Regions from separate parts of the Homo sapiens genome. Here region 1 is linked to region 2. The links come from fine-mapping of genetic effects on gene expression. A gene starts in region 2. The other region holds a variant in brackets. All regions are shown on one strand. Distances are between the middles of the regions. Region 1 overlaps EFTUD2 (elongation factor Tu GTP binding domain containing 2). Region 2 holds the start of FAM187A (family with sequence similarity 187 member A).

What was found. PIP is the estimated chance that this variant, and not a neighbour inherited with it, causes the effect. A credible set is the group of variants that fine-mapping cannot tell apart.
Region 1: its variant is the best candidate, but not a certain one, in a credible set for the expression of FAM187A in whole blood (TOPMed, PIP 0.85).

What each region holds. Positions count from the first base shown.
Region 1 is chr17:44,875,230-44,878,133 of GRCh38, forward strand. It overlaps EFTUD2 (elongation factor Tu GTP binding domain containing 2), which reads right to left. Exons shown (of 28, transcript NM_004247.4): 10 at 705-871. Among named protein-coding and RNA genes, the nearest start is that of EFTUD2, 23 kb to the right of the region's middle. The variant G/A (reference allele first, on the strand shown) is at 1,420.
Region 2 is chr17:44,902,112-44,904,953 of GRCh38, forward strand. It overlaps FAM187A (family with sequence similarity 187 member A), which reads left to right and starts at 1,322. Exons shown (of 1, transcript NM_001258400.2): 1 at 1,322-2,842. The coding sequence starts at 1,719. It overlaps DNAAF19 (dynein axonemal assembly factor 19), which reads left to right. Exons shown (of 4, transcript NM_213607.3): 4 at 254-2,842. The coding sequence ends at 706. GFAP (glial fibrillary acidic protein) reads right to left here. Exons shown (of 9, transcript NM_002055.5): 9 at 1,048-2,842.

The DNA.
Region 1 (2,904 bases), 27 kb before region 2:
ATTAAAATTAAAAAAAATTGGCCGGGGGTGGTGGTTCACGCCTGTAATCCCAGCACTTTGGGAGGCCGAGGTGGGCGGATCACGAGCTCAGAAGGTCAAGACCAACCTGGCTAACACAGTGAAACCCTGTCTCTACTAAAAATACAAAAAATTAGCCGGGCGTGGTGACGGGTGCCTGTAGTCCCGGCTACTTGAGAGGCTGAGGCAGGAGAATGGCATGAACCCGGGAGGCGGAGCTTGCAGTGAGCCGAGATCATGCCACTGCACTCCAGCCTGGGCGACAGAGCGAGACTCCGTCTCAAAAAAAAATAAATTAATTAATTTAAAAAATATATAGCCAGGTATGGTGGCACATGCCTGTGGTCCCAGCTATCAGGAGACTGAGGTGGGAGGATTGCTTGAGCCCAGAAGTTCGAGGCTGCAGTGAGCTGTGATTGTGACACTGCACTCTAGCTTGGGTAACAGAGATCCTATCTCTAAAAAGAGAAGAAATTAATACAGCCCAAGTACTGATCATAATAGTAAAATGAAGATGTGTTAAAGTATGAAGTCAACCCCTGCAGAGTCCCAGGATGTGCCTCTAGTTTTGCCCAACAAACTCATCAACACACGCTTAGAAATAAATCACAGTTGTTCCCAGAGGTATTCAGGGTTAAAACCCAGAGCCTCCGAGGACAGGAAATCCACTCCCAGGGGTTTTCTACCTTATTAATCCATTGACCTCATCCACAATGTGGCGCAGCTTGTAATAAGCATCAGTTGGAGGCAGCTTCAGCTCCAGGATCAGCCGGTCAATCTTGTTGATGCACACAGTGACTGCCAGCCTCTCCTGCACCGCATGCTTGATCAGCCGCTCTGTGTTCAGCATCACCTGAGAAAAACAAGGCTCAGAAGGTGGTAAGAAGAACAAGGAGGGCAGAAAGTTCAAAGCAGAACCAAAGAAGGCACTATTTCAAACCATGAAGCCTGGGGAGAAAAAAAGACCTCGGGAAATATTACTGGGTGGAAGCAGAGAGCATCCTGCCCGAAGATAGACACAGGAACTTTAAGAGGGCACCTTGCAGGATTGAGAAATGAATAAACCCATGAACAATGATGTTGGGAGCCAGGTTTCTCAGTGCTAAAGAAGGAACTAAGAAGGCTGGGAAGAGCCAGTGGTGCTGAAATGGAATTGGGGGTATTAGGATTAATGCATGATTTTTAATATATGTGTGTAGAAATAGTTATAGATATGTATGAGTGTATATAACCTAGCTGTGCTCAGTGAGAGGGCCTAGAAGCAATGTACCCCAGTAGCAATGAGCACATCCAAACCTTTGTTTCTAAATACTAATCCCCACTGGCCGGGCACAGTGGCTCATGCCTGTAATTCCAGCACTTTGGGAGGCTGAGGTGGGCGAATCACGAGGTCAGGAGATC[G/A]AGACCATCCTGGCTAACACGGTGAAACCCTGTCTCGACTAAAAATACAAAAAGATGAGCTGGGCGTGGTGGCAGGCACCTGTAGTCCCAGCTACTTGGGAGGCTGAGGCAGGAGAATGGCGTGAACCCGGGAGGCAGAGCTTGCAGTGAGCCAAGATCGCACCACTGCACTCCAGCCTGCTGGGCGACAGAGTGAGACTCCGTCTCAAAAAAAAAAAAAAAAAAAAAAAAAACTACTCCCCACTATGAGCCAGAGCTGCTAGGCTAGGTGCAGTCACTCACACCTGTAATCCCAGCATTTTGGGGAGGCCAAGGCAGGAGGATTGCTTGAAGCCAGAAGTTCAAGACCATCCCCGGCAACAGAGCGAGACCCCATCTCTCAAAAAAATATTTAAAAATAAGCTGGGCATGTTGGCACATACCTGTAGTCCCAGCTATTTGGGAGGCTGAAGTGAGTGAATCACTTGAGCCCAGGAGCTCGAGGCTGCTGTGAGGTATAATTGTACCATTGCACTCCAGCCTGGGCCAGAGGGCAAGATGCCATCTCTTTGAAGGAAAAAAAAAAAGCCAGAGCTCCTTGAAGAAATGGCTGAGTCCAGGATTGGGACAAGGAAAGATAACGTCTAGAACATCTTTTTGTGCTTGAAAGTAAGGAAGTGCTCAAAAAACGATGAGGCGTGAAAAAGATGATGGAATCAGCCTGAAGGAGCTCTCAGTAGCCAAATCTGGGACAAGAGCACTAGAGCACCGGAATCCATAAGGACAGTAACAGATTATAACTCACTGAATAAAATGCAAACCCAAATATCCACAGTGATAATAAGCAAATGGGGGAGAAACAAAAGCACTTCTTTACAACATAATTCCAACCAATAGGCCAGGCGCAGTGGCTCATGCCTGTAATCCCAGCACTTTGGGAGGCCGAGGCAGGTGGACTACTTGAGGTCAGGAGTTCAAGACCAGCCTGACCGACATGGTGAAACCCCATTTCTACAAAAAATTCAAAAATTAGCCAGGTGTGGTGGCAGGCGCCTGTAGTCCCAGCTGCCTGGGAGGCTGAGGCAGGAGAATCACTTGAACCTGGGAGGCAGAGGTTGCAGTGAGCCAAGATTGCGCCACTGCACTCCAGCCTGGGCGGAAGAGCAAGACTCCATCTCAAAAAAACAAAACAACAACAACAACAACAACAACAAACAACAATGGCTGGAAGCGGTGGCTCACGCCTGTAATCTCCACACTTTGGGAGGCCTAGGTGGGCAGATCACTTGAGGTCAGGAGTTCGAGACCAGCCTGGCCAACATGGTGAATGAAACCCTGTCTCTACTAAAAATACAAAAATTATCCAGGTGTGGTGGCGTGCACCTGTAATCTCAGCTATTTGGGAGGCTGAGACAGGAGAATTGCTTGAACCCAAAAGGCAGAGGTTGCAGTAAACTGAGATCGCACCACTTCACTCCAGCCTGGGCAACAGAGCAAGACTCCATC
Region 2 (2,842 bases):
CTCCATTCATGAGTAGGAAAATTCCAGTATAAATGAGAATCTCAAATCATGGCGTGGATTCCTTGGGGCCCTCCCTGTTTCATCCCCAGTTTCCTCATCTGAAAATGAGGCCGCCAAGGACCACAGCTTTCCCAGTGCTCAGACAGTAGTGAGATGAAGACAGTAAGATGAAGAGCTACAGGCTCCCCTCCCTGTCACTGTTGCAGAACAGCTGGAAGAGCTCCTGACTCCCTTTCCTTCCTTTGTGGTCCAGGAGAAAGCCCCCCTCCAGCCCGAGACGTCTGCTGACTTCTATCGTGATTGGCGACGACACTTGCCAAGTGGGCCAGAGCGCTACCAGGCTCTACTGCAGCTTGGGGGTCCAAGGCTCGGCTGCCTCTTCCAGACAGATGTGGGATTTGGACTTCTTGGGGAGCTGCTGGTGGCACTGGCTGATCACGTGGGGCCGGCTGACCGGGCAGCGGTGCTGGGGATCCTATGCAGCCTGGCGAGCACTGGGCGCTTCACCCTGAACCTAAGCCTGCTGAGCCGGGCAGAGAGAGAGAGCTGCAAGGGCTTGTTTCAGAAGCTGCAAGCCATGGGCAACCCCAGATCCGTGAAGGAGGGGCTCAGCTGGGAGGAGCAGGGTCTGGAGGAGCAGTCTGGTGGGCTCCAGGAGGAGGAGAGGCTCCTGCAGGAGCTGCTGGAGCTGTACCAGGTTGACTGATGCGGCAAGCTACCCTCAGAGGTCCCAGTGGTCACTGGAGGCAGTTTTTTGGTTGTTGTCTTGGGGGTTCTGCAGGACCATAATAAGAAACCCACACCTGGTTCCCTTCTCAACTTGGAATTTTCAGAGCAAAAACAGGAATCAAGTCTTCCCCACTTCTCCAGTCCCTCAGTGTCTCGCTGTTTTGAACTGTGTGTATCCATGGACAGTCAAGAGCTCAGGAAGTTGAGAGCGGTTTTGTTTCCCACCCTTAGAGTCTGCCAAGCCTCTAGCCCACTGGCCTTGAGAGATGAGTGTGTGCCCAACCAAATGCTGGCTATACCAGTTACAGCCTCCACTCATAAAAGGGAAAAAGCAAAATCTTTATGGTAAACAAACACTGATCTCCACAGCTCTTAACAAGAATGTTTATAGCCCCAAACCAATGAATGGACATGTAATCAACAAATGATCAAATACTACATCATTTGAGGTGTTGAATTTTCCCCTAGAGACTCAGTTCTTGTGCAGGTTGGGCCTGGGAAAGTCCCAAGCCATCAGCTCAGGTCCAGCCAGCCTCCCGGATGGCCAGATATGCAGGAGGGTGGGTTTCCTTCATCCCCCAGGTTGATGAAAGACTTTTCCACCAGGCTGGCAGGGCAGGGCCTGGAGCACTGAGGCAGAGATCTCCCTGCCCGAGCACCTCGGCCCGCCCTTCTCATTCCGGTTTCCTTTGACCCATTCTTGGGTGAGCGCCAGTGTTCTAGAAAGGGGAGTAAAGGCCAGGTTCTAGAATGGCTTTCCCCCCCCACCCTGAGATCAGGTCTGGAATGTTAGAAGGGCATCTTGTACATCCACTGGGAATAAATTGCCTTGCACTTGGCGGCTTCCTCTGCAGATTGTTGCTGCTTTTCCTGGCTGCATAATCCTTTCCTCATCTAGAGGCTTCCGCTTAGCAGAGCTTTCTAGGAGCCCTATGAGCCTTTAATGCCCTGGTTTTGCCCTGCCCCTCTGACCCCTGCCTCCTTCAGGTATGCACCTGGCCCTCACCACTGTGCTCCTGTGGGCATGGGGGCTCCAGGCCTTTGAAATTGTGGAGAAGGAAAACATTTTTCAGAGGACCCCCTGCCCTGCTTTCCTGATGTTTGAAAATGCAGCCTACCTGGCCGACATGAGCTTTGAGCTTCCCTGTCACTGCAAACCCGAAGAGGTGCCAGCTGTAGTCTGGTTCTACCAAAAGCACCTAGGTAGCAGCCACACCAAAGTGCTGACGGACTTTGATGGGCGGGTGCTGACGGAGGCAGCCCAGGTACGTGTGGGCAGCGACATGCTGACCCGCTTCAGCATCCGCATGTTCAGCTTGTTGGTTTTCAGGGCTCAGTCTGAGGACTCAGGCCTGTACTTCTGCGGCACCCGCAAGGGGGACTACTTTTACGCCTACGATGTGGACATCCAGAACAGTGAGGGAATGGTGGCCACTTTCCAGGACAAGGGCCAGGAGCCCTTTGCAGATGAATACTATGGGCACCTCCATGTCTTCACCACCTTCTGGGAATGGACCCCCTGTGACCGCTGCGGAGTGCGTGGGGAGCAGTGGCGCATCGGCCTCTGCTACCTGCAGAGCCCAGACCTCTCCCCACGCTACCTCAAGGCCGTGCCCGATGTGGTGTCTTGTGGCTCAAGGGCTGTGCCAAGGAAGCTGCGGACCAAGGCCAGGGACCACACGCCTGAGGTGCTGGTTCGGAGCTGCTTAGTACCCTGTGAGAAGACAAAGACCATCCGGGAGGGCGTGCTGGCCATCATTAACTATGTGTCCAAAGTGGGCAGCCGGCCCTGGGTGCCCCAGGTGCCCATTCAGTTCCACCAGCAGAGACTGGGCCATGGACTCATCATCTCCTGTCCTGGGGCCCGGCCAGAGCATGCAGTGGCCTGGGACAAAGACCGCCAGCACCTCTACCGCACACAGTACCTGAAGGGTGTCAACAGGTCCATGAGGGTGTTCATTGACCACGGCAACCAGCTCCACATCCGCTTCACCCAGCTGGATGACCGGGGCATCTACTATTGCTGGAGGCAGGGTGTGCTAGTTGCTGGCTTCCGGCTGGGTGTGACATCTCATGGGCACTACCCAGCCTCGTTCTCAGATCCTGAGACTCG